7 linked regions of the Homo sapiens genome follow. The protein of the gene in region 1 interacts with the protein of each later gene in a pairwise test. Each region holds a gene or a part of one and is shown on either strand. Other genes may lie near its edges.

Region 1 (4,450 bases):
TTTTGAATCATGATATATTGTGGTTGCTAAACATGAATAAGGCTTTAGACCACACTAAATTACAGAAGGTTTTTGTTTTTGTTTTTCATAGAGTGGGGATTTCACCATGTTGCCCTGGCTGCTCTTAAACTCCTGGTGTCATGTGATCTGCCCACCTCAGCCCCACAAAGTGCTGGGATTACAGGCACGACCCACTGTGCCCGGCCAGAGAGTTCTTTAAAAGAATGATATTTTTTATGAGTTGGTCATTAATTCAGTTGCCGTTCACTAAATTTAATGAGTAAATCAGGCCATTAAGTCATTTAGAAGCACAAAACAGATAAAAAATGAAGATTCCAAGACATATAAAATCAGATATGATTGTTCTCTTCATTGTCTGTGCAGAAGCATTGCCTTGTGTGGAAGTGAGGAGGGCAGTGTGGTATAGTGAATGGGAAGAATTCTGGACTGGGATTTAGATGACCTAGGTTTTAGTCCTGGTCTGCTGCTGATTTGCTATGAGAGTTTGGACAAGTTCCTTTGCCTTCCCAATTCTCAGCATTGTTCTCTGTAAATTAAGAGGGTTAAATTAGGTAATCTGTAAGGTCCTACCTGACTCTAAAAGTCTAGATATAGATATCACTTTCTTTATTCTTGGAATAGGTAAAGCAATTTCAAATAAATATACATTTATCAGGGATTCAGAAACCTCATTCTTTATAGTAAATAAAATTTTTTTCCAGCAAAACTGTTATCAACACTGCCTAAATAGTACAAATAACAGATTCTTATTTAGTTCTTTTTACTTTTTAAAATTTGCTTTATAAGAAATAGGTAGAGGAATAGAGCAACAAAAGTATACAGATATTTAAGCGTCTGTTTTGAAATAACATTGCTTTTGTTGCTGTAACACTATACCTGTTTAATTATCTGGATTCCTTGAATAACCAAGAGCCAACTATTTTATCGAAAACAGTAGCAATAATATTAAAGAATAAAATTATCTCAATTATATATTACATTTATTTTGTGATACTCAGCTTTTGAGGATGGCATATTATGTCGTTTTAGGCAAGTTATTCATGACTCTTTGGGTCTCTTATTTCTACCTGTGCTGTGAGAGGGTTGAACTACATAACCTTTAAGGCTTAGTTTATTGAATCCTTATAACATCTCCTAAAACAGCAGCCTAGATATCAGTCTAAACTCAGTCTTCATATTTTTCCAATAGAAAATGTGAAATTTTAACATACATCATTACAAATGATTTTCTATTATAAACACTTTATATATGAGCATTTTTTACTTAAGTTTGGAAGTATGGCTTAAGATTTTTGTAAAATTGATAAAAATGTGTAGGTCTTACAGAAGAGAAAACAAAAGAAACTAAATGGTTTTGGTATAAGTATGTTCCTTAACTAATCAAAATACAAATTTTTAAAATCTTTTGCCATATATTTTTCTTCATGAAATATTACCATTTGTAAACAAATACCTTAGAATGATGTTTTATTTATGATTATATTGTATTAGAGTAAAATTTTTGGAATTTGAAAGACAAATGCATTAGTCCACTGAGGAAATCAGTTACTCACTGTCAGGTATAATCACATAAAAGCATTTGTGATTTTGAACTGCAGAATTCCAAGAAACAAGCTTTTCTGTTTTCATTTTTATTCACTTATCAAACAAAAACTTGAGCACAGATGTGTGTTTTTAACTAATTTTATATATTTTTTCACACACGTACATAGCAGCATTATTCACAGTAGTTAAGAGGTGGAAACGACCCAGATGTCCAGTGTTGGATAAATGGATAAACGCAACGTGGTATATACATACAATGGAATATTATTCAGTCTTAAAAAGGAAAGAAATTCTGACATGTGCTACAACATAGATGAACCTTGTTACTAAGTGAAATAGTCTAGTCACAAAAAGATAATTATGTATGTGGCATTATGGTTCCACTTATATGGACCCTCTACTGTAGTCAAATTCGGGCTGGGCCCAGTGGCTCATGCCTATAATGCTAGCACTTTGGGAGGTGGAGGCTCAAGGATCACTTGAGCCCAGGAGTTCAAGACCAACATGAGCAACAAAAAAATATTAAAAATTAGCCAGGCCTGGTGCCATATGCCTCTAGTCTCAGCTATTGAGAAGGCTGAGGGAGAAGGATCACTTGAACCTGGGAGGTGAAGGCTTCAGTGAACCATAATTGTGCCACTGCACTCCAGCCTGGGTGACAGAGTAAGATCCTGGCCCAATAAATAAATAAATAAATAAATAAATAAATAAATAAAGTAGTCAAATTAATAGAAACAGAAAGTAGAAAGATGTTTGCTAGGGCCTGGGGAGAAGGAGAACTGATGACTTGTTTAATAGGTATAGAGTTTCAGTTTTTCAAGATAGAAAAGTTCCAGAGAGTCACAACAATGTGGATATGCTTAATGATACTGGACTGTACACTTAAAAATGATTAAGATGGTATATTTTATGTTATGTGCTTTTCTTTTTACCGCAATGCAAGAATTTCATATATTATAAAATTAATACATTAGCACCTGTAGAAATGATCTCTTTAGTGCTCAATGGTAAAACAGTCAATTCTTCTTTATTTTTTCAATTTAAAGTAAAATGACTTTATAAAGAGACTATATAGCTGTTGGCTTAAAAAAAATCCGAGTGGCTAGAAAGTAGCAAATAACAAGAAAGAAAACTTTAGCTTTGTATTTTGCTTTATGGTTTTACAAACAACTTCACAATAACTCTGGGAGATAGGCCTTGAAGGCATTTTTTCCATATATTTAGAAGTCTTTGAGATTTACAGAAGTTACGTAACTTTTGTAGGTGGTCACTATAGTGCAAATGAATGTGCATGGGTTGTTTTGTCCCTAGCCCAGTGCTCTTGTCTTCCCGTCACACTAGCCAAGCAAGAAAGAAATAATCAGGCCTGTAATCTGTGTTTCTCTTTTATTTTACCTTTTCTTTTATTGTTATCTACAGAGTATCACTGTTTAGAATACTAAATCTGAACAAAGTCATAATATTACCAAAGATCATCTAAAGAAAGACATCTAAATATTCAAAGGTGCTATAAAGGCTGGTGTATGAGATTAAACTACAAAGTGATATTTATTCATATACTATATACATACACAAATATGTGAATATATGTAGAATACAAAATGCGATATTTAGCCTGAGAAGATGGTTAACTTCCATATGACGGTGTAGGATTGTTTAAAAAAAGTGTATTCAAAGTGAATTATGAAAGTATTTGCCAAATTGCATAATACAAGAGCTAGAAACTTGTTAGTGAAAGGATAATGAAATTCATTCAGGACTAACCGTATTTTACCCAGTGGCTATTCAACTTATAGAACTGTTAGAGTCAAGGGAAGATTTTGGCTAAAGTTCCCATTAACTCACACACTCACACACTCTAATGGTATCTTCCATCTTTTTTGCTAAAGGGAAACACCATTTCAATTTTCTTAAAGCTTTGAGTTCATTGGCAGCATTGGGTGGATGGTTGAACTTGGAACTCCCAGATTAAGTTTTATGACTACTTTTTCTGAGAAGCCCAGCAAAATTGGAAACAAGGAGAGAAGGAAACTACTTGTATTCTGATCTTGGCTTCCAGGAAACGAGGCAACATTCTTCAGCTCTCTCTCTCGAGATATATTTTCTCCCTTGAAATTGTCTCCTTTTCCCTTATGAACTGGCTTTTATGAATAGGCCATTTTCTGAAGTCATGAATTTGGACATCACCTGCACTTGGGCATGGTGGCTCACGCCTGTAATCCCAGCACTTTGGGAGGCCGAGGCGGGTGGATCATTGAGGTCAGGAATTTGAAACCAGATATCGTCTGCACATGATGAAACTCACTACCATTTATTGAGCATTTAGTATAGGACCATTTTAAGATGCTGTAGTACTGTATTTGATACACCTTATATTTAATTTTCAGATCATCTCTATAAGTTAGATATTATTTAACCATCTATAGATGAAGAAATAGACTCAAAGCTACATAGCTAGAAAGTAACAGAGTTGGAATAGGATCAAGATCTTTCTCCTTCCCAACAGTGACCTTTTTATAATGCAACATAGCCTACTTATTTATTCAATAAATACCATTTTATTGCCCAGTAATAATAGTGAACATTTATTGGATGCTTACTAAGTGTCAGGCACTGTGTCCAGTGTTTTATATGTATTATCACATTTAGTCCTCATATTCCATTGGGCTCGGTACCGTTATTATCCCCATTTTCCAGGTGAGTAAACTGACTTTCCCTGAACCTGATTCATCTAATACTAACCCTGTCAAATTAAATCCCAGGGTAACCAGCCTTCAGCTCGAATCACACATTGATTCTCTCATCTGTGTTAACTGTCTTTTCTCCTTTACAGCTTCTGAATCTGTTCTTATTTTTTGCTTGCTCTAGGAAATTTTATAATTTC
Region 2 (4,450 bases), on another chromosome or scaffold:
ACAACTGAAGGAATTAGAGGAGCAAGAACAAATCAACCCCAAAGCTAGCAGAAGACCAGAAATAATCAAAATCAGAGCTGAACTGAAGGAAAATGAGAAAATGAGACACAAAAAACCACTCAAAAGATCAACAAATCCAGGATCTAATTTTTGAAAAAATTTATAAGCTATATATGCCACTAGCTACCAGCTAGACTAATAAATAAGAAAAGAGAGAAGGTCCAAATAAACAGGATTGGAAATAATGAAGGGAATGTTAATGCTGACCCCTCAGAAATAAAAATAACCATCAGAAACTACTATGAACACCTCTAAAGACACAAACTAGAAAACCTAGAAGAGATGGATAAATTCCTGGACCCATACATCTCCCAAGACTGAATCAGGAAGAAATTGATTCCCTGAACAGACCAATAACAAGTTCCTAAACTGAATTAGTAATAAAGAGCCTACAAACAACAAACAAACAAACAAAGCCCAGGATCTTATGGATTCACAGCCAAATTCTACCAGATGTACAAAGAAGAGCTTGTACCATTCCTACTGAAACTATTCCAAAAATTTGAGGAGGGAGGGATCCTCTCCAACTCATTCTATGAGGCCAGTATCAATCTGATATGAAAACCTGACAGAGACCCAACAAAAAAAGAAAACTTCAGGCCAATATCCTTTATGAACATTGATGCAAAAATTCTCAACAAAATACTGGCAAACCGAATCCAGCAGCTCACCAAAAAGCAAATCCACCATGATCAAGTAAGCATCATCTCCAGGACGCAAGATTGATTCAACATACACAAATCAATAAAAGTGATTCATCACATAAACAGGACTAAAGACAAAAACCACATGATTATCTCAGGAGATGGAGAAAAGGTTTTCAATATAATTCAACACCACAATAACGTAGGTATTGAAGGAAAATACCTCAAAATAATGAGAGCCATCTATGACAAACCCATAGCCAACATTATACTGAATGGGCAAAAGCTGGAAGCATTCTCTTTGAAAACTGGCACAAGACAAGGATGCTGTCTCTCACCACTCCTATTCAACTTAATATTGGAAGTCCTGGCCAGAGCAATCAGGCAAGAGAAATAAATAAAGGGCATCCAAATAGGAAGAGAGGGAGTCAAACTATCCCTCTTTGATTATGACATAATTCTATATCTAGAAAACCCCATAGTCTCAGCCCAAAAGCTCCCTCAGCTGATGAATAGCTTCAGCAAAGTTTCAGCATACAAAATCAATGTACAAAAATCACTAGCCTTCCTCTACACCAATGACAGCTAAGTCCAGAGCTGAATCGAATAGGCAATACCATTCACAATTGCCACAAAAAGAATAAAATACCTAGGAATACAGCTAACCAGGGAGGTGAAACATTCCTACAATGAGAATTACAAAACACTGCTCAAAGAAATTGTGTCAGAGAAGACACAAACTAATGGAAAACATCCCATGCTCATCGATAGGAAGAATCAATATCACTAAAATGGTTATATTGCCCAAAGCAATTTATAGATTCATTGCTATTCCTATCAAACTAGCAACAACATTTTTCACACCACTAGAAAAAAACTATTTTAAAATTCATATGGAATAAAAAAGAGCCTGAACAGCCAAGGCAATCTTAAGCAAAAAGAACAAAACTGGAGGCATCATGTTACCTGATTTCAAACTACACTACAGGGATGCAGTAACCCAAAGAGCATGGTACTGGTATAAAAACAGGCCTAGACCAACAGAACACAACAGAGAGCCCAGAAATAAGGCTGCACATCCACCACCATCTAATCTTCAACAAAGCTGACAAAAACAAGCAATGGGGAAAAGATTCCCTATTAAATCAATGGTGCTGGGATAACTGGCTAACCATATGCAGATTGAAGCTGGATCCCTTCCTTACACCATGTATAAAAATCAACTCAAGATTAAGATTAAAGACTTAAATGTAAAACTGAAAACTATAAAAACCCTAGAAGACAGCCTAGGCAATACATCCTGGACATAGGCAAAGATTTTATAACAAAGATGCCTAAAACAATTGCAACAAAAGCAAAAATTGACAAGTGGAATCTAATTAAACTTAAGAGCTTGTGCACAGCAAAAGGAACTATCAACAGAGTAAACAGACAACCTACAGAATAGAAGAAAATATTTGCAAATTATGCGTCCAACACCGGTCTAATATCCAGCATTTAAAAGGAATGTAAACAAATTTACAAGAGAAAAACAAACAATGCATTAAAAAGTGGGCAAAGGACATGAACAGATGCATTTCAAAAGAAGATAGACATGTGGCCAACAAGCAAGTGAAAAAAAGCTCAGTATCACTGATCATTAAAGAAACACACACACAAAAAAACCCACCATGAGATATCATCTCATACCAGTTAGAATGGCTATTATTAAAAAGTAAAAAAAAAAAAAACCAGATGCTTGCGAGGTTGAGGAGAAAAGGGAACACTTATACATTGTTGATGGGAGTGTAAATTAGTTCAACCACTGTGGAAAGCAATATGGTGATTCCTCAAAGAGCTAAAAGCAGAACTACCATTCAACCCAGCAATCCCATTACTGGATATACACTCAGAGGAATATAAATCATTCCACCAGAAAGACACACATGCACTTGAATGTTTGTAGCAGCACTATTCACAATAGCAAAGACATGGAATCAACCTAAATGCCCATCAATAACAGATTGGATTAAAAATTGTGGTACAGGGCCGGGCATGGTGGCTCACACCTGTAATCCCAGCACCTTGGGAGGCCGCGGTGGGCAGATCACTTCGGGTCAGGAGTTCGAGACCAGCCTGTGCAACATGGTGAAACCCCATCTCTACTAAAAATACAAAAATTAGCTGGGCATGGTGACAGAGGGAGACTCTGTCTCAAAACAAACAAACAAACAAAAACTGTGGTACATATACACCATGGAATACTACACAGCCATAAAAAAGAATGAGATCATGTCTTTTGCGGGAACATGGGTGGAGCTGTAGGCTATTATCCTTAGCAAACTAACACAGGAATAGAAACCCAAATACTACATGTTCTCACTTATAATGGGAGGTAAATGATGAGAACTCATGAACACAAAGAAGAGAACAAGAGACACTGGGGTCTACTTGAGAGTGGGGGTGGAGGTTGGGAGGAAGGAGAGGAACAGAAAGATAATATTGGGTACTAGGCTTAATACCTGGTGATGAAGTAATCTGTACAACAAACCCCCATGGCATGAGTTTACCTATGCAACAAACCTTCACATGTACCCCTGAACCCAAAATAAAAGTTAAAAAAGAAAAGAAAAGAAGACACTATGGGTCATACATTGACACACAAACTTTTTTTTTTGGACAGAGTCTTGCTCTGTCTCCCAGGCTGGAGTTCAATGTCTCAATCTTGGCTTACTGCAACCTCCGCCTCCCGGGTTCAAGCGATTCTCCTGCCTCGACCTCTCGAGTAGCTGGAATTACAGGCGCCTGCCACTGGGCCCAGCTAATTTTTGTATTTTTTAGTAGAGAGAGGGTTTCGCAATGTTGGCCAGGCTGGTCTCGAACTCCTGACCTCAGGTGATCCACCCGCCTCAGCCTCCCAAAGTGCTGGGATTACAGACGTGAGTCACCATGCCCGGGCCGACACATAAGCTTTTTATGGGAAGTAAAACTATGGCTAGTTTCCTAAGCAGAGTTGATTGTTTTAAAAGGGTAAAGGCCCCGCGCTGGCGGGCGCTCCTCCCTGAGCGGCGGGAAGCAGGCGGCAGCGGCGGTGGCGTCGGCTGAGCAGAGGACCCAGCGGGCAGACTCGCGGGTCGGACAGGATCGTCGTGACAAAGGCTTCGACAGCTTGCTGGAATAGAGGATCTCTGCTGCCTCGCCTCTTCTGTGGCCTTCGTGTGGGATGCACGAGACGGCAGGACCCAGATAACCGTTCTCTCAAAGACACAATGTTTGCACGAGGACTGAAGGGGAAACGTGTTGGCCACCAGGAAGACGTGGAGGGAGCCCTGGCCGGCTTGAAGACCGTGTCCTCGTACAGCTTGCAGCGGCAGTCCCTCTTGGACATGTCCCTGGTGAAGCTGCAGCTTTGCCACATGCTTGTGGAGCCCAACCTGTGCCGCTCAATCCTCATTGCCACGTGGTCCGGCAGATCCAAGAGGAGATGACGCAGGATGGGATACGGCGCACACCCCAGGCTGCAGGGTGGGCGCCGCTGGACCACTTGGTCTTCATGGAGATTCTGTGCCGCGCGGCGTGGGAGCAGGAGGGGGCACGTCCTGCCTCTGGCTTGGGAGACGGCCACGCACAGGGCTCAGTTTCTAACCTTTGCCCAGTCACCTCAGCACAGACGCCGAGGCACCCGCAGAGGGAGGAGCGTCTGGGAGATGGATGGCCCTCAAGAAAACAGAGGAAGCTTTCGCAAATCACTCGATCAGATATATATG
Region 3 (4,450 bases), on another chromosome or scaffold:
ATAGCCCCAGTAAAAAGGCCCGTTGTCTAAGTGTTTATCACATGGAACTGACAGGTTGTGGAGGTTACTAGTACTTACAGATATTCTCATTTTCATACTAGTTATTTGTAATTCAGCCCCATTCTCTGCGGTTTACATGAGGGCTTTGTTCCAAAATTCATTCAAAGGTTGTTTGATACTGGAAAACTCAGAGGAAATGTATAAATTTTATGTGATGATTAGGAGCTAGGTTTGCTCTCAAAAAGGCCTACTTTACCCTATATGGTTTGATTCAGAAAGAGTTAACCCAATTTAATTAAGCAAATATGATTATGTGGAGCTCCCACTGTGGGCTAAGCAGGAACTTTTCTGGGTGCATAGGCACAGTGATATTAATATAATAGTGAATAAGACCTTCATAAAACATTTACAATCCATAAAGCAACTATACCTTTAATTAGAAAGTAGTCATTATAAGTGCTACACTTTTTAAAATAAACTGCTTTTGGATTGAAGGAAATATCATTTCTGTACCGATTTATGAAAGTGCCAAAGATATATTGTTGGATGGGATAAAAGTAAATTACCTGTGTAGTATTTTTCCCATTTAAAAACTGTTAGTATTCATAGAAAACATATCAAATATGTGACAGTTTGGGAGACTGAACATCATGGTAAGAATGAGGGCTTTGGAGTCAGACTGCATGGTTTTGAATCCCAGCTTGGCCTCTTACTGGAGATGTGAACTAGGTCAAGTGACTTAACCTTTCTTTGCTTTTTTGCGTCACCTATAAAATGTACATAATAATTGCACTTACCTCTGAAGGTTATTGTGAGGATTAAATGAATTACCACATGTCAGGTGCTTAAAACAGCACATAGAAAGCCCCAAAAGGAAAGATCACTTTGGTTAGAGGAATGAACAAGTACCTAGACTGATTGTAGTAGCAAAGTTTTAGGTTTTAGGAGTCAGGGACCAAGTGGATAAAACTCCTTAGAATCTAGCCATTAGATTGTTCTTCATTTTCTTCACTTCCTTTCTTTTGCTTCGTCCTCCAGCTTTCTTACAATCCCTTCTGTGATTGCAACAAGGGCAGACTGTTGAGACAGGAGTGGGATACAGTTGTGCCCCTGGGGAGAGTGAGTCAGGTCTGGTTTCTGTGTTTGGTGTATATGTAGGTGTGTGCGTGGTGGTCTGGTTTTGTAGAATGTTTTTGTGCGGATAACCAAATAATAAACATTAAAGCGGGTTATTTTGTTCTTCTGTGGAGGTTGTCCTTGTAAGCAAGTAACATTTTATTGCAAAATATACAGCGTCTTCAGTCAGAATATGCTTATCTGTAAAATATAAAATACAGTATTGTAACTGATAGGCTTAGAGATTTAGGGAGAAGAAACAGAGAGCAGGGTTTTACCCTCCAGATTCTAGTGGAAGTGTCAGATTACCTGTTCTGCTTTTCTCAGAGATGGAGCAAGCTGTTTCTACTATGATTCTAACCTTCAGGTCTCTTAGGTCATGTTTTCTGTCCTAGGAAATGTAAGGGTAGTACTTTATTTTTTATTACGTCTTGCATATAAAAATACTTTTAAAACTTTTTCTTATTCAATAAATAACTGTTAGTAATTTGAATAAATTAGTATACAAGCTTGTCATTTTCTTATTTGTCCATTTAAATTAACTAGTATTGAAATCAGTAAAATTACAATAATCATGTATTAGATACACATTAATTTCTTTTTTCTTATCTCTTGCAGGATTTCTGGTAGGTCCTACTTTAGGACAAGATGTGGTACCGTTGAAGCGTCAGTCTTTGATTCACAGACAGTTGAGCTTTTCAGCTGGGAAGCCTTTCCATTTTTTTTTTTTTAACGGCTTTCTGAACCTATGAAACCATGGCAGAAGGAGAGACAGAGTCACCTGGGCCCAAAAAGTGTGGCCCATATATTTCATCTGTCACTAGCCAGAGTGTGAACTTGATGATTCGAGGAGTAGTGCTATTTTTTATTGGAGTATTTCTTGCATTAGTGTTAAATTTACTTCAGATTCAGAGAAATGTGACGCTCTTTCCACCTGATGTGATTGCAAGCATCTTTTCTTCTGCATGGTGGGTACCCCCATGCTGTGGCACGGCTTCAGGTATGTGTAGGATGTTTCTGTAATGCTTAGAAAGGAAATAGGGTAAATGAGTATGGACGTTGTCTGAGCAATAAACCTTTTTAAAAAAGAAAATATATTTATTGAGATATAATTTAGGTATAATACACTGGACCCGTTTGAATTGAACAACTTGATGTGTTTAGGCAAATGCGTACAGTCACATGACCACTGCCAATCCAGCTGTGGAACATTTCCATCACCCTCCAGAGTCTCTCGTGTCCTCTTGCAGTCCATTCCCCACCCCCAGCCTCAGGCTACCACTGATCTGCTTTCTGTTGCCATAAATTATTTATCTCTGTTCTAGAATGCAATATAAATGGGCTCATAACGTATGTACTCCCTTCTGTCTCATTCTATCTGTCCTGTAAACTTTTAACATTTAATTCTGAAAAACAATCCTGTTTCCCTTAGGGATGAAGCATTTAACCCCTTAATTTTGTTCTTTCTTCAACCCATCTCATCTAAGTGTTATTTTAAGTTATTTGGATGATGAGCACCACCATTTGGTTTTAAGGGTTTGATGCATGTGCTGTAGTCTTGTTTCTGAAGTAATAAAAACTTGAATAATTAAAGTTTAAAGCTTCATGTTGTATTTTTGTAAATGCTTTTTTCCTTGGTATCTTGTTTTTATAAGTACCTTAGAATAATAAATATTTAAAGACATCTATAAGGTAGACTCTCTTTGCTTAAAATTAGTATCCTATTAGTTACTTTAGATATTTTTTTGGTGGTGGGCAGTGTGTAATGCATAGAGTAGAGCATTTCACAATACTTTATTGCTGCCATACTTCCACAATGGATAGCACTTTAGTGTTTTCTAATGACCAAGACCAATAGATTAATACTGTTTTTAATAATAAAGTAATAAAAGGAAACCATAATCATGTGGTAGAAGATAATTCTGATTGAAGGAGAAAATTGCTTTTTAAATACCCATTTGGTGTCTCATACTTAACATATATGAATGAATATCTTGCAACATAATATATGTCCTTCTTGGCTTCCATCCAAGAGCGGGAGGTTGAAGGATGAGGTTGCGCTTTACGGAAGTGTTAGAATGGCCTTGTGAAACTTGCTGGACAATTATAGAATCCTGTTGCACAGTTAGAGGGGCACTGTTGTAGTAAGGCTTCAGTGTTTATATACTGATGTCTCACTATTACATCGTTCACATTAAAAGTGAAGTCATGAAGGCAGTGATTCTTAGTTTCCCAGGGTTATCATTCTCCAAGAGAAAAGGCAAAAAATAGTCCAAATAAAAAACAAATTAAATTGTATCACTCTGCTGTATGTACTGGTCCTCATGCATTTTTCTTTCATTTAAATTCAGAAGAGAAAACGTTTTCTCAACAACTTTTCTAGTTCTTTGTTTCTTTTCTTCTATAGTATAGTCTGGCTGCCAGTAGAAGCTTTTTGGGACATGGAAGAGCATACATGTCTTTTCAGGATAGAACAGAGGGAAGGGAAACTGTTGTTTATTGAATGTCTGCTAATGTGCTAGGTACATCCTGTAATCCCAGGGTTCTGTAGAGCAACTTTGGGAGAGAGATGTTTGGCATTGTGCCTGTTATGGGGAGATGAGGACACTCACTGAGATGAAGAAAGAAAACCAGTGAGCCCAGGGTCCCAGAGCCAGTGAGTGGTGTGACTGGGTCCACATGTCACATGCTGGGGAAGGGAAAAGGAAGCTACTCACACTTTTCCCCCTACTCAGGATGCCACTTTTCAAGCCTCCAGACTGGGTGCCAGACCTAGATGGAATTCCCTGGCGTGTGTTGTGCATTTGGGCTGGGGCAGGAGAACTTAACTGAGGTTTCATTGTACCTCCACTATGAAGAGTAACAGGGCTGCACCTGCTGTCTTGTCCTTCTGCCCCTTTAATGTCAGCACTTTTGCCATAAACTTACATTTTAGGAAGGAAAATTTCAAATGCTAATACCACAGTTCAGCCACTACTTTCCTTCCTGTTCCCAGCCACTAGGTTTGTCACACTTACAAACTTAACCTCATTTGGGGAATTTGCATTTACATTTCTTGCTTAAGTATTTCTTCTGAAAGCAGTTTGTACCATAAGGTACTTGGGCAAAAGAAAGTAGAGAGACATTAGGAAATCTAGATTCCAGCCAATTCTGCTACCAATTTTGTTAGTTAAGTCATGGTGTTTAGTAGATGAGAGTGAAAGATATCAGATTTGTCCAAGTTGCCAGAGATGGAAAATGGATTCTCTCAAAATCTCTGCTCTGCCATCCCCTGCATCATTATTTTAGGGAAAGTATCATGGGAAAAGAAGTAAATGATTTAAGAAACATAGTG
Region 4 (4,450 bases), on another chromosome or scaffold:
GTATGATGCAATCAGATTCATGCTTCTAAAAGAAGGAAAACCATAGTGTATTTGTGTATACAGGCTTGACAGTTTCAGGACACGGATCCAACTGCTAACACCAGTTATCTCTGAGGACCTGGAGGAGCTGGCACCTGGGGAGGGGTGCTGGGTGAAGGGGAATGTGACAAGTCTGCTGTGTCCTTCTGCACTATTTAAATGCAAGGGCAGGCTGCAGGAGAATACATTTACATATTACCTATATGATTTCAGAAAAAAAGCACCTAAACTGATTAAAAAACCACCACCACCAAAACAAGCTACTTATGCTGATGTGAAATTGCTGCACCAATTTGAACAGGTTTCTATGCTGCACTTCCAGGTCTTCCCAAGACTGACAAAGTTCAAGCCAATTTCTGCAGTACTGATGACAGACTGAATTGGGACTAACAAGGAAGAAGGAAAATGTGGGATGCAAGGAAAACATCTGTAAAAGCTCTGTGGAAGCTGCAAACCAGTCCTACCCTGAACCTGCTCATCACCAAAACTCACTAGTTCTGGGGCCTTCCTCCCTCTCATCCCTATAGGATGAGAAATAAGCCAAAACCGGAATCAAGAGAGAATTCCCTTTCCCACGGCAGAGGGAGGCCTCCACTGTCACCAGCAGAGCTGCTCCCAGGCAAAGCCAAAGAAACGGCCTGGCCAAACTCCACCTTCCTGACAAAGGCACCATGTGCCAGGCTCCTGGGATTGCAGGGACAGCCAAGACTGGCAGCCCTGAAGCCCACGCATTTGAGTCCCTCCACTTCGGCAAACAGCCCAGGAATCTTTTCACACTCACTACTGAAATCCAAACTGAACCAGTATACAAATCAGATGGTCCTGCCAACAAAACAGGAACAAAATGGAAAAAAGGGTGATAAATCAATGATATCCTGGCTAAATATATACTTCTTCTTTCTGCTTGCAGGGGCACTGCTATAGATTTAAACCTTTGATAAATATCTTTTTTGCTTCCCAGTAATAATTAAAGCAAACACACCCAAACACGCACCTAAACACGAAGCAAAAAGAACGAGAAAAGGGCTTTGCTCAGGACATAATGTTCAAGAGGTAGGCATGACAGCTCATATCCACAGGCAGAAATGCTCTTCTCCCATTAAAACATGTACCTGTCTGGCACGGGTTCTTACCCCACAAAAGAAACAACTGGACACTCTAGGGGACTGCCGAGAAGTGCCCTCAGAACAAGAAGAGGTTCCCTCTTTGAGGGAAAAGTGTAAACATCAAGCAGAAAGTGGGTGAGCAGACTCTTGCACGGAGTGACTCACCGGCAGAGACAGCTTGTTGCTGGAGATGCTGGGAGCAGGCAGGTCCAACAGAGGTAACCTGGCTTCCTCCTCGCAGCGAGAACACAGCCCAAATAAAGCCAGAATCTGACCACCTGACCTCCGGCCTGACCAGAGCCAGCACAAACTCTCAGAAGGGCAGGGATGTTGCACAATTTGGAAAAACGGAAGCCCAAAAGCAAGTTTATGACCACGTCTGGCACTGACTAGGGGAAAGGGCACAAAACCAGTATATTCCTGACATGGCAACAGTGCGTCCTACCGATGACAGGACATGCAGACCCCAGCCAATCATCTCCTTGGGCTCTGATGCCCGCTTCCCTGAGCATGGCTTGGCGCCCCGCAGAGACTGCACCCGTCAGAGGAGGCTGGCCTCGACTCCTCTTGGGGCTGGCCATTATGTTCACTGCCACTCCTGCTTCCCAGTCAACCCCTGCAAGTTTGGTGACCACAAGTTAACCCCATCTAGGGCAGATCAACTCTTATGGAATAGCCAAAACTGAGGACCAAACCCTGGTGGGTCCCCTGTGCCACCAGGGAAGAGGGGTGTGCAGACAATACCCCAGGAAGGCGTCTTCCCTTCCACACTTCTAACCTTGACTAGCATTTCCCAAAATGCAGTCTGAGGAATCCAACTTCATTCTCTGCGATGCTCCTGGAAAGTTAGGAATGATAAGGCTGGGGTGGCACAGGGAAGGGAAGGCCCTTTCGGACTGTGCTCAGCCACCTTTCTCTAGCTGTTAGCAGAGACCAAAGGAGGCACTTTTGGTTTCTGCAGAGATTGCTTTTAGCCTGCACATAGTCAGCATCTCCAACACCCATCCCTGGGGCATCAGACCTGAAATGGGAAGGGATGATGCAATTCTAGTATCCAAAGGCACTAAGCTCTATGGATTCCAACAAGCCCCCTCTTCTCCGCAACCACTGCCACTGTCTTAATGTCTTCTGTTCAGGCCCTCATCTCTCAAGACATTACTTTAATGAACTAGTTTCTCTACACCTAATTTCTACTTGCTTCACTTCAAAACTCCAGACAGCCACCGAGCTACCTTTCTAGAATACAGGCCTGACCCTCTCTGCCTACAGGACTAAGTCCCAACCCTGGCACAGCATGCAAGGCCCCTGCCTGCCTTTCCAGCTGGAAGCATGGGCTTTGGAGTCCTACAGATCATTGCAGTGACACTTAGATAAACCACTTGCTGGCTATGTGAACACACATGTGTTTCTGCACCCATTTCCACATCTGTGTGTTGGGAATAGCATGATCAGCCTCCCAGAGCTACTGTGAGGACCGAATCCAAGTTCTAAAGAGCCTAGATCTCACCAACCTAGCTCCAGGGTCCTCTCTCTTTCCCATCTTGCTATACCAGCTCTTCATAATCAATGAGAATTGACTCAAGGGTAAAAAAAAAAAAATACATGCAAGATCTAAAAATGAAGGGTCATAAATTTAAAAATTAGGCCACCACAATGTGAAAGAAACCAAAATTAACTCATTATCAAAATAATGTAGGAGGACGGAAGGAACAGGAAGAGAAGGAAAACAGTACATTTAGGAAGAAATGCTTTTAAAATATAAGTCTCTATGATGTTTTGAGCCTCATTTGCTCCAAAGATTTAGGAAGATGACATTTCAAAAGCTCACAAAGACGACACTTCTACTTTTTAAAAACTATTTCCTAATTATTATCTTCAGAGAACTAAGAAGTACTTTCACAGACTGAATGTTAATAAAATTCTCAGAGGAAATTCTGGCATCAGTCACAACAAACACCCTCTTGGAATTTAATTTCCTTTCAGCATACAATTTACTATGGAAACTCATTTGTGATGCCACCACAACCAGTCAAAATCTGCCTGGAGCACAAAAACTTCAGAGTCCCAAAAGAGGGCCTTAAAGGACTAGATGGAAATTGGTCCCATATTAAGCCAAATCCTGCATCTAACAGAAATTTCCCCCACACCAAACTAGCTTTGACCGTCAGCCAGCCCACTCCTCTCTCTAGCTGCCCTATACTATAGGCTCTTCCAGGGCCCCCTTCCAGCTAGAACCCCCTGAATTCTGTATCTTTTCCCTGTCCAACAAAATTAATTTAAAAAAAAAAAAAAGGAGGAAGGCCACAAAATGGGCAAAGGGAAACCAGCTACATCCATTTTCAACTTTCTATCAAAGACCTGTCCTTTCTGGCTTACGATTTTTTCAATTCCCTTGGACAAGACAATCACAGGCCCTGGAATATTCATTGCGCGTGCTGGGGCTTAGGGTGGGAAGGCAAAAAGGCTAGAAGAATCATTGATAAGTACAAAAAGTACTTTAAGCCTTTTCCCCCTGAGGACAACTGCTGAAAGACTTACTCAATCCCATTGACCCAAGTACCTGTGTGCAAGGGAAAGGAGTGGATGCCAATCTTTACTCAGCACCCACTGCAATTAGTGGGTACATTTCTTGAATATAAGACAGACAGTATTATCCTGATTTTACACATGTGGAAACCAGGCTCAGAGAGGTCAGGCAGCAGGTTCAGTATTTACACCCAGGCCTGCCAGACTCCCAAGACGCTTGAACTTAACCACTTCACCACACTGCTTCCAGAGTCTACAAGTGTTTATGTTAAAATGTGCTGGGTTAGGGAGCCCGTTAAGAGTTTACTTGTTGCTCTTCACATACAGTATCTCATTTAACTAGCACAACCCTGTAGGATAGCTGAGAATTCCTTTTCCACTGTTAACAAAATGGTACATGGATTGAAAGATCATCAGTAACTTATGCACGACAGCTGTACCAGAGTCGTGCCATCTCTTGGCTTTGTTTTCTCTCCTGTAAAATGATGCTCACTCCTACCTCACAATGCCTGCTCAATGGCAGGGGCTCAAATGGTGACGATTATGATTTTTATCAATACTTCTCAATTAAAGTAAAATTTATACACACACAAACACTAGATATTTTAAAGACTCAACCTAATTAATCAAGCCTTTACTTGTTGGAGAAGATATCATTTTTAACACTACCTCATCTGGTCTGAAAAGGAAAGTAGTTTAAAAAATATTTGGAAAAAATTGTTTAATAATAAAATACCACTACCTCAAACTCAGAGAGAACCACTAACTGCAGCTTCCAA
Region 5 (4,450 bases), on another chromosome or scaffold:
TTTTTAGTAGAGGTGGGGTTTCACCATCTTGGTCAGGCTGGTCTTGAAGTCCTGACCTTGTGATCCACCTGCTGCCTTGGCCTCCCAAAGTGCTGGGATTACAGGTGTGAGCCACCGCACCCGGCCTCCTGTTGTGACATTCTATCCAGCAGCTTCTCTGAATAGACTTTTAACCAGAATCTCAGCCTCAATGTTTTTAAAGGAGTTAAAATTTCAGTACCACTCAGTGATTGATTTATTTGGTACCTCTGTTACCAAGCACTTACTATGTGCCAGGAACTCTAGGCTGAAAGATATAGCAGTACCTACCCCCATGTTGCTAATAGCCTAGTTGGGGAAGATGACAAAGAATAAATTCTAAGTCTAGTATGTGTTTTAAAGAAGTCTGGGTGCCATGGGAGTATATACAAAAAATTGCCATTAAAACCAGATCCTGAGCTGGGCAGAGTGGCTCACACCTATAATCCCAGCACTTTGGAAGGCTGAGGCCAGTGGATCACTTGAGGTCAGGAGTTCGAGACCAGCCTGGCCAACGTGATGAAACCCTCATCTCTACTAAAAATAGAAAAATTAGCTGGGCATTATGGCTCACGCCTGTAGTCCCAGCTACTCGGGAGGCTGAGGCAGGAGAATCGCTGAAACCCAGGAGGTAGAGGTTGCAGTGAGCCAAGATCGCACCACTGCATTCCAGCCTGGATGACAGAGCAAGACTCCTTTTCAAAAAAGAAAAAAACAGATCCTGAGAATAAAGATAAGCACATTTATAGTTTGGTTAACTATAAAATGGAGTAAAATGTTAATTGACATGGTACCTCATAATTTCCTGGTGTTATGAAACTATCTTTCAGATCTTTGGGGTTCGTTATGGAATTTGCATAATTGGCAGTGAAATTTTTCTTACTTGCAGATTTATAAAATGAAGCATTTGGAAAATTCACAGTGTAACTTTTTTTGTTTTTTGAGACAGAATCTCACTCTGTTGCCCAGGCTGAAGTTCATGGCGCGATCTCGGCTCGCTGCAACCTCCACCTCCCGGGTTCAAGCAATTCTCCTGCCTCAGCCTCCTGTGTAGCTGGGATTATAGGCACGCTCCACCGCGCCTGGCTAATTTTTGTATTTTTTTAGTAGAGGTGGGATTTCACCATGTTAGCCAGGGTGGTCTCACACCCTTGACCTCAAGTTGTCTGCCCGCCTCAGTCTCCCAAAGTGCTGGGGTTACAAGCATGAGCCACCATGCCCAGCCACAGTGTAAATTTTATTTGTAATTATTGGATTTCTGGTTCAAGTTGATGTTTGAAAAATAAAAAAAGAAAAATATTTTAAAAATATAATTATTGGGAATTTTGTATCAAATGATTTTCTGGTTGGTTTTACCTGTTAGTGCTTCCTTCATTGCCCCCCACCCCGCCTCCCAAATAGAGGTTGGAATCATTATCCCTCATCTGAAATACTCTAAAATCTGAAGCTTTTTGAGCACTGACATTCCTTCCTTTGCCTGTGTCATAGAAGGAAAAAATTAAGCCAATGAGAGATTGCTAGAGGTAGCAGTGAGAAGCCTCTACTGTCTTGGGGGTGGGATAGGGTGGGGCATGGTGGTATACTGTGAAGGATCTGAGCTCTCTATTCACTGACTGGAGCTGTTGCATTGACATTAGATCCATCCAGTTAGTAGGATGACTGGAGATCTAACTTAGCTCATCTGTCTTTCCTTTGCATAGGAAATTAAGGGATCCAAAAAGCTGAGTCATGGTCCAAAAGGAAACGTTGATGTCAGGACAGCCATAGCCAAATTTTATCTCAAGGGTAAACATGAGACTGGGTAGGGATGGCTGTCAGTGCCTGGGGATTGGTGGGGCTTGGGGGTAGGTAGAAGAAAAGTGTCCTGGGTTAACTACTTGTTTATTTTTTTCATGGACACAATAAATGACCTGATCTTTCCTTGTTAAGGGCTGGGATTTATTTGAACCCTCAGGACAGGCTAGAAAGAATTGTGACTTTTTTTCATGTTAATACATAGGTAGCCTATGTTACCAAATTTTATTTTTTAAGATAGTTTATTATTTTTATTTTTTGAGATGGAGTCTCGCTGTGTGACCCAGACTGGAGTGCAGTGGCACGATCTCAGCTCACTGCAACCGCCACCTCCCGGGTTTAAGTGATTCTCATTCCTCAGCTTCCCGAGTAGCTGGGACTACAGGTGCGTGCCACCACGCCCAGCTAATTTTTGTTTTTTTAGTGGAGACAGGGTTTCACCATGTTGGCCGGGCTGGTCTCCAACTCCTGACATCAGGTTATCTTGCCTTGGCCCCCCAAATTGCTGCCATTATAGGCCTGAGCCACAGCACCCAGCCTTATTTTTATTTTTTTGAGACAGTCTGGCTCTGTTGCCCAGGCTTGAGTGCAGTGGTGCGATCTCGGCTCACTGCAACATCCACCTCCTGGGTTCAAGTGATTCTCATGCCTCAGCCTCCCAAGTAGCTGAAATTACATACGTGTACCACCATGCCTAGCTGATTTTTGTATTTTTAGTAAAGTTGGGGTTTTGCCATGTTGGCCAGCCTGGTCTCGAACTCCTCACCTCATGTGATCCTCCTGCCTCAGCCTCCCAAAGTGCTAGGATTACAGGTATGAGCCACCACGGCTGGCCTGTTACCAAATTTTCATGATCTGCAGTTCAAATCCTGGCTAATGACTAAACTTACCTTTGGGAGGTAAAAGGCAGAGAAGAATCATATCTGTTTTCTAAGAAGGACCTTAGAAGATTAAGATGAAACAATGTATAAAAACAAAGTAGCTTATACTTGCATAACTGGGCAGTTCACTGTTTTTATCAGTATAATCCTTTTTTTGCAATAGCAATTCAAAGAGCTTTTCCAGTGGTTGAACAGCAGTCATGGGTTTAAATTATGTTTGCTTATAACCACAAGAATCTTTATAGAGAACAAAATGTTTGTACTCTGGACTATCCTAGAGAATTCTACGAACATAGACTGTAATCATGACATTACTGTAGTCCTGTATATGCAAAAAGAATAAAAGCCCTCCTTTGACTACTCCCTTGCCTTCTGCTTCTCCCCCATCTTAGTTTCTACCCATGGGGTAACCACTGTTGCCAGATTTTTCTTCACAATTGTATGTACTGTACCTTTTTGAAATCTGGAAGTTTAAACTTCAGGCAGTTTTCTTTTTTTTTTTCCGAGATGGAGTCTTGCTCTGTTGCCCAGACTGGAGTGCAGTGGCGCGCCTTCCAGGTTCATGCCATTCTTCTGCCTCAGCCTCCCGAGTAGTTGGGACTACAGGCACCCGCTGCTGCGCCCAGCTAATTTTTTATATTTTTAGTAGAGACAGGGTTTCACCGTGGTCTCGATCTCCTGACCTTGTGATCCGCCTGCCTCGGCCTCCCAAAATGCTGGGATTACAGGTATGAGCCCGCGCCTGGCCCAACTTCAGGCAGTTTTATTAGGAGTTTAAACTTGAGGCAAGAGGACAATGAAAAGAAGCTCTTCACCATCTCCCACTATATATATAGATATATATAGTGTAAATATATAGGAGTAAAATTTGTATTAGAATTCCAGCTCAGGCACAGTGACGTATGCCTGTAATCCTAAAACTTTGGGAGGCTGAAGTGGGAGGATTGCTTAAGGCCAGTAGTTGGAGACCAACCTGGGCAACATAGCCAGACACTGTCCCTATAGAAAAAAAAATTAGCCAAGTGTGGTGGCATGCTCCTATAGTCCCAGGTACTCAGGAGGTGGACACAGAAGGATCACTTGAGGCCAGGAATTTGAGATTGCAGTGAGCCGTGATTGCACTACTGCTCTCCAGCCTAGGCAACAGCCAGACCCTGTCTGGGGGAAAAAAAAATTCCATAGACTACTAAAGTTTAAGAACTTGTGAAATCTTTTTACTATCAGAAATCTCTTTTGTTACATATGTATTACTGGCCAAGACATCTGGAAGTTCAGAGATACAATGCTGATAATCTGCTTTCCAGATTTGGTTTACAAATGGTGGGTTTTATTTGGTCTGCCATAGTCTTGACACTGTACTCCAGCCTGAGCAATAGAGTGAGACCATGTCTCAGAACAAACCAAAACTGCTTAAAGATTTATTTCTTTACTACAATAAACCTACCAAAAGTTTTTCACGTGTAATGAAAGAAAATTAATCTCACTTGAAACTCATTTTCTTAAAATATCGTTGATATAGATGAGTAACGAAAGAGGCTTTGAAAATGTAGAACTGGGAGTCATAGGAAAAAAGAAGAAAGTCCCAAGGAGAGTCATCCACTTTGTTAGTGGTGAAACAATGGAAGAATATAGCACAGATGAAGACGAAGTTGATGGCCTGGAGAAGAAAGATGTTTTGCCTACTGTTGATCCGGTAGGTTTGATATTGATGATTCTTTCCTCAGTGGGCTTTGTTTTGATTTATTTTTTTTCCCTAA
Region 6 (4,450 bases), on another chromosome or scaffold:
CTGGGATTACAGGCGCACGCCACCACACTGGCTAATTTTTTGTATTTTTAATAGAGATGGGGTTTCACCATGTTGCCCAGGCTGGTCTCGAACTCCTGACCTCAGGACAATCTGCCTGCCTCAGCCTCCCAATGTGCTAGGATTACAGGCCTGAGCCACCACGCCTGACCTGTTTATTACTTCTTGTATGTGAACTCCCATTAGAGTGTCAGCTCTACAAGGGCAAGGATTTGTTCACTGCTGTATCCCCATCACTTAAAACAGCACCTGGCTCCTAGTAGGTGCCCAATACATAGTCATTTAGAGCTTTGACCCAGCCCCAGCTTATGTAGGGTGGCTGAGTCCTTTCCCAGGTAGTGGTGTAGGCTTTGGGGCAAGTGAGAAGTAGTTTCAAGTTTCTCAAAAGCGTAGGCCCTCAAACCTGTGTGGAAGGCTCCTATCCCAAAACACATATCCCCAGGAAAACCTGTTGTGCCCTCCTGCGGAGGCACCTCATGGGACTGGTCTTGGTCTTATGCCCATCCAGGTAGAAATGAAGGAAGGCAGCTCAGTTGGCAGAGCACAGATTTGGAGCATTCTAGACCCTGCTTCAAGCAGTGTTGTCTCAAAAGCAAATCACCTTTCATTTTGGGTGCCCATTCTCATTAGCTAATAGAATACAATAGGGCCAGCTGGGCACAGTGGTTCATGCCTGCAATCCCAGCACTTTGGGAGGCTAAGGCGGGCAGATTGCCTGAGGTCAGGAGATCAAGACCAGCCTGGCCAACATGGAGAAAACTAGCTGGGCGTGGTGGCGCGTGCCTGTAGTCCCAGCTACTCAGCGGGCTGAGGCAGGAGAATCACTTGAACCTGGGAGGCGGAGGTTGCAGTAAGCCGAGATCGTGCCACTGCACTCCAGCCTGGGCAACAGCAAGACTTCGTCTCAAAAAAAAAAAAATACAGTAGGTCCCAGCTCAAGTCCAATAATAATATTTATTAAAAACTACCCTGTCTCTACTAAAAATACAAAAAAAAATTAGCCGGGCGTGGTGGCAGGCGCCTGAAGTCCCAGCTGCTCGGGAGGCTGAGGCAGGAGAATGGCGTGAACCCAGGAGGTGGAGCTTGCAGTGAGCCGAGATCACGCCACTGCACTCCAGCCTGGGTGACAGAGCGAGACTCCGTCTCAAAAAAAAAAAAAAAAAAAACTTAACTACATACTTGGCACTACAGACCGTTTTGTGTTGACTCCTGGAATCCCAGCATCCTATGACATGAGTGTCCTCATTATTCCTGTTCTACAGATGTAGAGACTGAAGCATAGAGAGGTTAAGGGTCACCCATCTAGTAAGTAGCAGTGCCAAGATTCCGCGATTCAAACTCCACAATGCAAGTTCTTCACCGCTAACTCTACTATCAGAGGAGCTGGTGCCTTTAGAGGTAGTTTGCTTTCCCATAGACACTGGTGTAAACACTGCCCATGTACTGTCTCAAGTAACCTTCCTGACAGTCTTTGAGGGAAGCACTGTTAGTTTGCTCGTTTTACAGATGGGGAAACTGAGCGCCAGAGAAGCTCAGTGGGCCAAGGGTACACAGCAGAGACTGCCTCACGCAGTGGGAAGTGTGTGGAATAGAGCTGGAGGGCTGGGCTCTTATCCCAACCCTGCTGGTGGGCATCTGCATACCGTGGGTTCAGTCATGTAAACACCTCATCTCCTCATCAGCCAAGTGGACATGATAATGGACTTTTCCGGGGTTGGCAGGAGGTGTCCCTGGAGGAGTACGTAAGAAAGCACCGCATCAGTGTAACCCATGTGATACAGGGTCCCGGATGACAAACTCTGTAGGGGCTGAGGAAAGATGCTTGAATGCCAAGACTCTCTTCCCGTTTGCTCCCAGGTTTTCACTGGTGCCTACCTAGCAGCTATTGACTTAGTGAACTTTATGTTCATTCTCTTCCCAGTCTGTGGATCCAAATTCAAGTCTAATTCAGGTGAGTGTGTGGCTGTCTTTTCCTGTCTTTATTCACCCATTCATTCATCAGCACGCCGAATGCCTACTCCTTATCACTCCCAGAGCGGGCCCCAGCCAGGCACAAACAAAGGAGAAAGGCTGGGCGCGGTGGCTCACGCCTGGAATCCCAGCACTTTGGGAGGCTGAGGTGGGCAGATCATGAGGTCAGGAGATCCAGACCATCCTGGCCAACATGGTGAAACCCCTGTCTCTACTGAAAATACAAAAACTAGCCGGGTGTGGTGGCGTGCGCCTGTAATTCCAGCTACTCGGGAAGCTGAGGCAGGAGAATCGCTTGAACCCAGGAGGCGGAGGTTGCAGTGAGCTGAGATCGCACCACTGCATTCCAGCCTGGCGACAGAGCAAGAGTCCGTCTCAACAAACCTGGTGACAGAGCGAGACTCCGTCTCAAAAAAAACAAAAAACAAAAACAACCCCCCCCCCCCAAAAAAGAAGGAGAGTGTCTCATTAGGGCTGCCAGCTTGGAGGTGTGTGCACACTGTGGGCAGCCAGAGGGAGGGAAGGGCTGCTGGTGTCAAGGAAGCATGGGGCACTAGAGCTGGGGCCACAGGCAGGGCACTCCAGGCACACAGAGCAGCATGGGCAAAGGCTAGGAGGAGGTGTGGAGCAGGGCATGGGCATGAGCAGTGATAGCTTAGTGTGCAAGTTCGGGGTGGTCAAGCGAAGCTTCACAGCTACTGGAAGTGGATGCCAGGAATGGGCACAGGGCACCACCACAGGCACAGCAGGGGTCGGAAATGACTGGGCCAGGATGAGTGGCCCCGAGTGTCTGTGGTTGCGGCTTCTTGAGAAGGGTCAGCCATGTGCTTGGGCCCTTGTTCAAAAAGAGGGGATGAGGGGGCCGGGCATGGTGGCCCACACCTGTAATCCCAGCACTTTGGGAGGCTGAGGCAAGCAGATCATTTTGAGGTCAGGAGTTCGAGACCAGCCTGGCCAACATGGTGAAACCCTGTCTCTACTAAAAAAATACAAAAATTAGCTGGATGTGGTGGCATGCACCTATAATCCCAGCTATTTGGGAGGCTGAAGCAGGAGAATTGCTTAAACCCGGGAACTGGAGGTTGCAGATCGCACAACTGCACTCCAACGTGGGCAACAAGAGCAAAACTCTGTCTCAAAAAAAAAAAGGGGATGAACCAAGTGGTGTGGTGGCTCATGCCTGTAATCCCAGCACTTCGGGAGGCTGAGTTGGGAAGATTGCTTGAGGCCAAAAGTTTGAGGCCAGCCTGGGCAACATAGCAAGACCCTATCTCTACAAACATTTTAAAAAGTAGCTGGGCATGATGGTGCATGCCTGTGGTCCCAGCTGTTTGGGAGACTGAGGTGGGAGGATCACTTGAGCCCAGGAGGTGGAGGCTGCAGTGAGCTGTGATTGTGCCACTGCACTCCAGCCTGGGTGACAGCGAGACCCTGTCTCAAAAATAATAAATGAATCAGAGGGGGTGCTGCAGCAGTGTGTAGTGAAGCATGCCCTCAGCGGCTCAATGCTGCCCAGAAGAGAAATGCTCTTCTTAGAGTTTCTCAGGAGAGAGCTGGGCAGTGGCTTACACCCGGAATCCCAGCCACTCATGAGGCCAAGGTGGGAGATCGCTTGAGCCCAGGAGTTCAAGTCCAGCCTGGGCAACCTAATGAGACCTCATCTCAAAAAGAAAAAATAAACAGAATTGCTCAGAGGAGTGCCTATCTTACAGTTCAGGGACAAAGACACTGCTCATTGCTGTTTGTCCCGCGCACAGTTCCCGCTGGTGCCATCGCTGATTCACGGGTCGATGCTTGTACCACACTTGTACCGGTTCTGCTCTGTGGAGATTGTAGAAACCACCAGAGGATGGTGCCTTATCCTTAGGCGCTCTAGTCCAGAAGAGGCACTGCTGTCTGCACGCAGATGCATAGAGAGAAGATAATGTCATCTCTGCCTGAGGAAGGAGGGCAGCACGTTATGGGGGTGGGGTGTGCAGTCAGTGGTGGAGAGGAAAGACTCCTTGAAGAGGTGGCACAACTACAGGGCCCTGAAGGGTGGGGAGGAGCTGGCCTGCAGAATAATGTGGGAACCCGCTTCAGCATCATGTGGGGAGCTGACACCAGTTCTTCCCACGCAGCTATCTGATCTGACAAGGTCTGGCTTCCAGGAGCCATGTGGGATTTTGGTGTCTGTTGCAGATCGGGAAGCCCGAGAGAGGAAGAGGAGGCGGCAGCTCAGGGCCAGTGTGTTTGCCCTGGCCCTGCCGCTGAGCCTGGGCCCGTGCTGGGCTCTGTGGGTTGCTGTCCCGAAGGCTTCAGCCACCATCCGGGGGCCACAGCGGAGGCTGCTAGCGAGCCTGCTGCAGGTGAGGCTGGGCCACCGTGGGGAGGACTCGGGGTACTGCATGTCCTGCCAAATGCCCAGGGTGGGATGAGGCCGGGGCTAGGGGAGTGGGGTTAAGCCTTCCTTTGTTGGAAG
Region 7 (4,450 bases), on another chromosome or scaffold:
GGCTATTGCAGAGGATCACACAAAACAAATGGAAGAGTACAACAGGCAGAGTTTGGATGCAAGCCTTCTTTTCAAGTAAATGAAGATATTTATATATTTTTTTGCTTTTTACTTTTTTGGAGATGGAGTCTTGCTCTATTGCCCAGGCTGGAGTGCAGTGGCACAATCTCGGTTCACTGCAACTTCGCCTCCTGGGTTCAAACAATCCTCCTGCCTCAGTCTTCCAAGCAGCTGGGACTACAGGTGCCTGCCACCATGCCCAGCTAATTTTTTGCATTTTAGTAGAGACAGGGTTTCACCATGTTGGCCAGGCTGGTCTCGAACTCCTGACCTGGGTGATCCACCCACCTCAGCCTCCCAAAGTGCTGGAATTATAGATGTGAGCCACCACGCCCAGCCTAAATGAAGTTATTTAAGAGAAGAAACCATTGTTCAGCAGTTGAAGAGCCTCCCTTGACCAGGGCATTTCCTTTGCCTGGATTGTTCTGAGATGTACAAAGGGAAGGCCTTTTTCCTATGAATGAAAGATCAGGCTAAGCGGCTTCTGAACTCTTTTCCAAGTAGGAAACTGCCGAATTCTGTGAAACTGTGGCTTTTAACTCTCCATAAAACTCAAACAAATTTGACTTGTTTGTTTCTCAGACACAATTATCGGGTGGTATGGCTAAAAACTTACTAATATGAATTCTCAAGTTGGTAGTTGCAAACTTGGCTGCCCATCCAGTTCCTTCACTTGTTTCAAACCAGTCTGAATAAAACAAAAAACCAGTCTGAATCTGTCACATTGATTGCACACCCACTAACAAGTTCTGACCCACCACTAGAAAAACTCAGACCTAGCCTAAAGTCAGTCCTCAGTTTACAGCTGAGGAAGCTGAGCCCAGCGCAATGACATGGGTCTCCCAGAGTTGTACAGTAAGTGAAGAATTAGAACCCAAATCTCTGATCTCTTATCTCCAAGTCCAGTTCTTTATTCACATATATCAGCCAGACCGAAAATAATAATACAAGGTGGAGAAAAAAGGGAACCACTGCTGAACCGTAATTATGAAATAAGGAATTCAACCCCCCTGCTAGCTACTAAACATATAGATATTTTTTGTGGAAACAGAGCACCTCATGATAACTGCTGCTCAGTGAACCCACCACAGTGTTGGGTACCACTTTCCATGACCTCTGATCCTCACAACTACCACCTCACATAGTTGGGTTTATTAACTTTATTGTATAAAGGAGGGAATGGAGGCTGAGAAAAGTGAAGTAATTCCCATAATTCGGGTCACTCATAGGTTGAGCTGTGCATACATGTCTGACCCCAAAGTTCGTGGCTCTTCCCTGCCTTACACTGCCTCTTTATAATCCTTGTCTTTCCCTGCTTGGTATTATATCTCTTAGAAGTAAGATAAAGCAACAAGAGAAATACTATGCAGAACTAATTCTAACAAGTAGAGTAGTTGGTGATATCATCTATAGACTTGCTTGTTTGTCGTCTTCTCTGTTAGTATTTTAGCTCCCTGAGTGCGTGGCCTTCACCTCACTCACTGTCTAGTACAGCTCCTGGCACATTGTTAGCTTCAGATGAATATTTATGAGTGGACAAGCAAGTGCATTTAGAAATGACAAGGACATTCGCCGAAAGCAACCACATCATACTACAGAGGCGGGTCATATAGTGGCCCAGGGCACAGCCTGTGGAGAAAGACGGCCTCTGTTCAAAATCGTGTCTCTTAAGAGTTATTTGATCATAGGCAAGTTACTTAACTTCTCTTGTGCCTCGGTTTCCTGGGGATAATAATAATGCCAATGTCATAGTGTGGTCCTGTGAGTTAATCAAGGAAAGCGTTTGCACCAGTGCCTCGCTTATAGTAAGTGCTGTATAAAGATGAGTCGTTATTGCTATCTGAGGTTATGATAATAGTAGGGAAATAGTGGACCCATGTCTTAATGGGAGAAAAATATCATGAAATTTAGAGATAAGGTAAGTATGATGCTGTGGCTAGAGACTCAGAAGAGACTACGGTTCATATTCAATTGCAGAGTCTGAAAAGTAGATTTTTAACTATCTCATCATGAAAGATTTATTTCTGACCAAAAAATCTAAATGTAGAGCAGATGATTATGCAGATGGCCCGTGAATATGTCAAAAAGAATATAGTGCTTACTAAGCATCCACATGAATTTATGAAGAATGAAATTTATGAGCAGGTGATTTGGTTAAACTACTAGAAGAATGCCGTAGACTCATTGTGTCTTATTTTCAAGAGCACATTTAGAAAATCTGATTTCTGTAACAGCAGAATGTAGGGTGAAGTATGGGAGCCCTGGAGTCAGAGAGTTCTCCTCTCATCTCCCCCTAGAATTGGGCCTTGGTTTTCTTATCTGTCCAATGTGGATAATGAGTGCAACAAAGCCTCCCAGTGTGGTTCAGAGAACTAACGGAGATCATGCATGTGCACTGCCTCCTAAGCAGAATGTAAATGTGAGTCTCTCATAATCACAAGACCTGGGTAAGCAGAAAAGAAAGTGAAATGAAATGTGATTGATAGTCAAGGAGGTTCCCACCTATTTGCCTGTACCAAGCGTAGGTCTCAAATGCTCAGATGGTAGGTGGAAGTTTGCCTTGCAGTTGTCAAAACAAATCATGAGGGCCCCTTGATGCCACTGGCTAAAGGCTGGGAGAGAAGAAAACCTGAATAAGTCCCCTAAGGTCTGAGCATCTGTTGCCTCCTCTTCTCTCCTTGCAGGGGCGTTTGTGGTATGCTGGACCCCGGGCCTGGTGGTTCTGCTCCTCGACGGCCTGAACTGCAGGCAGTGTGGCGTGCAGCATGTGAAAAGGTGGTTCCTGCTGCTGGCGCTGCTCAACTCCGTCGTGAACCCCATCATCTACTCCTACAAGGACGAGGACATGTATGGCACCATGAAGAAGATGATCTGCTGCTTCTCTCAGGAGAACCCAGAGAGGCGTCCCTCTCGCATCCCCTCCACAGTCCTCAGCAGGAGTGACACAGGCAGCCAGTACATAGAGGATAGTATTAGCCAAGGTGCAGTCTGCAATAAAAGCACTTCCTAAACTCTGGATGCCTCTCGGCCCACCCAGGCCTCCTCTGGGAAAAGAGCTGTTAAGAATGATTACCTGTCTCTAACAAAGCCCATGTACAGTGTTATTTGAGGTCTCCATTAATCACTGCTAGATTTCTTTAAAAAATTTTTTTTCATAGTTTAAAAGCATGGGCAGTAAAGAGAGGACCTGCTGCATTTAGAGAAAGCACAGAAACGGGAGAGGTTCGGCGGGTCCCTGCTTGTCCTATGAACTGCTCAGAGCTCCTGTCAGTCCAGCTGGGCCTTCTGGGTTCTGGCACCATTTCGTAGCCATTCTCTTTGTATTTTAAAAGGACGTTATGAAAGGGCTTAGACCAAAATAAATCATAATGTTACTTGAGCCACCTTATATAGCTGCTTGGAGAGTCTATGTAGTTCTTTCTGCATGCATTAAAAATGTTTAGAAATGCTTCAGCAATGGTGTTTTTTTCCTCAAAGAAACCATGGCCAGTAGCTAGGTGTTCAGTAGGAATCAAAGAAAAATCAGTAAGAGCTCCAGATTAAACCTGATTTTTAACTGAAGGAACATTCTGAGGAAAAATACTTAAAAGTAAAAAAGGTCAATGTGAAAACCCTTTTTGACCTGAAAAAGGCCTTAGTATGGTCCTCCATGCATGTGTGTGTATATGCATGTGTGTGTGTGTGTGTGTGTGTGTCTATATATATATATATATATATATATATATATATTCCTGTTTTTACTGATTTTTATTGATTTTGTTCAAAGATATCTGGGGATTGGATTGGGGAATGCTTAATCTGACTATTGAAAGAAACATGGATCCCTGGAGTATTTCAGATACGGGGTTACCGCCCCAGACTGCCTCCCGCCAGTCCACATTAGTTCTCATTTTCCCTCATGATGGTGAAAAACAGTGGAGAGCTAGTAAAGGGTTTATGCAGAAAACAAGGAGAAGAGAATGTGAAGTTTGAAGTGCCTATGGAACATCCAGCTGATAATCTTGCCTAGTAAGAGCAAAAGAAGCCAAGAGAACACCAACGTTTAAGGAGCAGGTAGAGAAAACCCAGCAAAAGGACAGAGGAATAAGAGGACCAAAGAACAATGTTAAGAATCAAGGAGAGAGGTCAGGCACGCTGGCTCATGCCTGTAATCCCAGCACTTTGGGAGGCTGAGGCAGGTGGATCACTTGAGGCCAGGAGTATGAGACCAGCCTGGGCAATGTGGTGAAATTGCATCTTTACTAAAAATACAAAAACTAGCCAGGCATGGTGGCACATGCCTGTAATACCAGGTACTTGGGAAGCTGAGGCATAAGAATCACTTGAACCCGGGAGGTGGAGGTTGCAGAGTGAGCCAAGATCGCAGCACTGCACTCTAGTCTGGGTGACA

The links.
Region 2: the proteins of ELOVL4 (region 1) and CLCA4 interact in a two-hybrid assay, tested with the Homo sapiens proteins (one large-scale study listed by BioGRID).
Region 3: the proteins of ELOVL4 (region 1) and INSIG2 interact in a two-hybrid assay, tested with the Homo sapiens proteins (one large-scale study listed by BioGRID).
Region 4: the proteins of ELOVL4 (region 1) and SMCO4 interact in a two-hybrid assay, tested with the Homo sapiens proteins (one large-scale study listed by BioGRID).
Region 5: the proteins of ELOVL4 (region 1) and FAM177A1 interact in binary tests that used the Homo sapiens proteins (3 or more experiments, as listed by UniProt).
Region 6: the proteins of ELOVL4 (region 1) and TMEM44 interact in binary tests that used the Homo sapiens proteins (3 or more experiments, as listed by UniProt).
Region 7: the proteins of ELOVL4 (region 1) and LPAR3 interact in a two-hybrid assay, tested with the Homo sapiens proteins (one large-scale study listed by BioGRID).

What each region holds. Positions count from the first base shown.
Region 1 is NC_000006.12:79,937,336-79,941,785, reverse strand, and holds part of ELOVL4 (very long chain fatty acid elongase 4), read left to right. Parts: intron 1-4,450. UniProt on the Homo sapiens protein: Catalyzes the first and rate-limiting reaction of the four reactions that constitute the long-chain fatty acids elongation cycle.
Region 2 is NC_000001.11:86,552,845-86,557,294, reverse strand, and holds part of CLCA4 (calcium-activated chloride channel regulator 4 precursor), read right to left. Parts: intron 1-4,450. UniProt on the Homo sapiens protein: May be involved in mediating calcium-activated chloride conductance.
Region 3 is NC_000002.12:118,094,685-118,099,134, forward strand, and holds part of INSIG2 (insulin-induced gene 2 protein), read left to right. Parts: intron 1-1,734; 5' UTR 1,735-1,872; coding exon 1,873-2,116; intron 2,117-4,450. UniProt on the Homo sapiens protein: Oxysterol-binding protein that mediates feedback control of cholesterol synthesis by controlling both endoplasmic reticulum to Golgi transport of SCAP and degradation of HMGCR.
Region 4 is NC_000011.10:93,536,536-93,540,985, forward strand, and holds part of SMCO4 (single-pass membrane and coiled-coil domain-containing protein 4), read right to left. Parts: intron 1-4,450.
Region 5 is NC_000014.9:35,049,066-35,053,515, forward strand, and holds part of FAM177A1 (protein FAM177A1 isoform 1 precursor), read left to right. Parts: intron 1-4,212; coding exon 4,213-4,386; intron 4,387-4,450.
Region 6 is NC_000003.12:194,623,416-194,627,865, reverse strand, and holds part of TMEM44 (transmembrane protein 44), read left to right. Parts: intron 1-1,875; coding exon 1,876-1,969; intron 1,970-4,170; coding exon 4,171-4,337; intron 4,338-4,450.
Region 7 is NC_000001.11:84,812,466-84,816,915, reverse strand, and holds part of LPAR3 (lysophosphatidic acid receptor 3), read left to right. Parts: intron 1-2,744; coding exon 2,745-3,070; 3' UTR 3,071-4,450. UniProt on the Homo sapiens protein: Receptor for lysophosphatidic acid (LPA), a mediator of diverse cellular activities. May play a role in the development of ovarian cancer. Seems to be coupled to the G(i)/G(o) and G(q) families of heteromeric G proteins.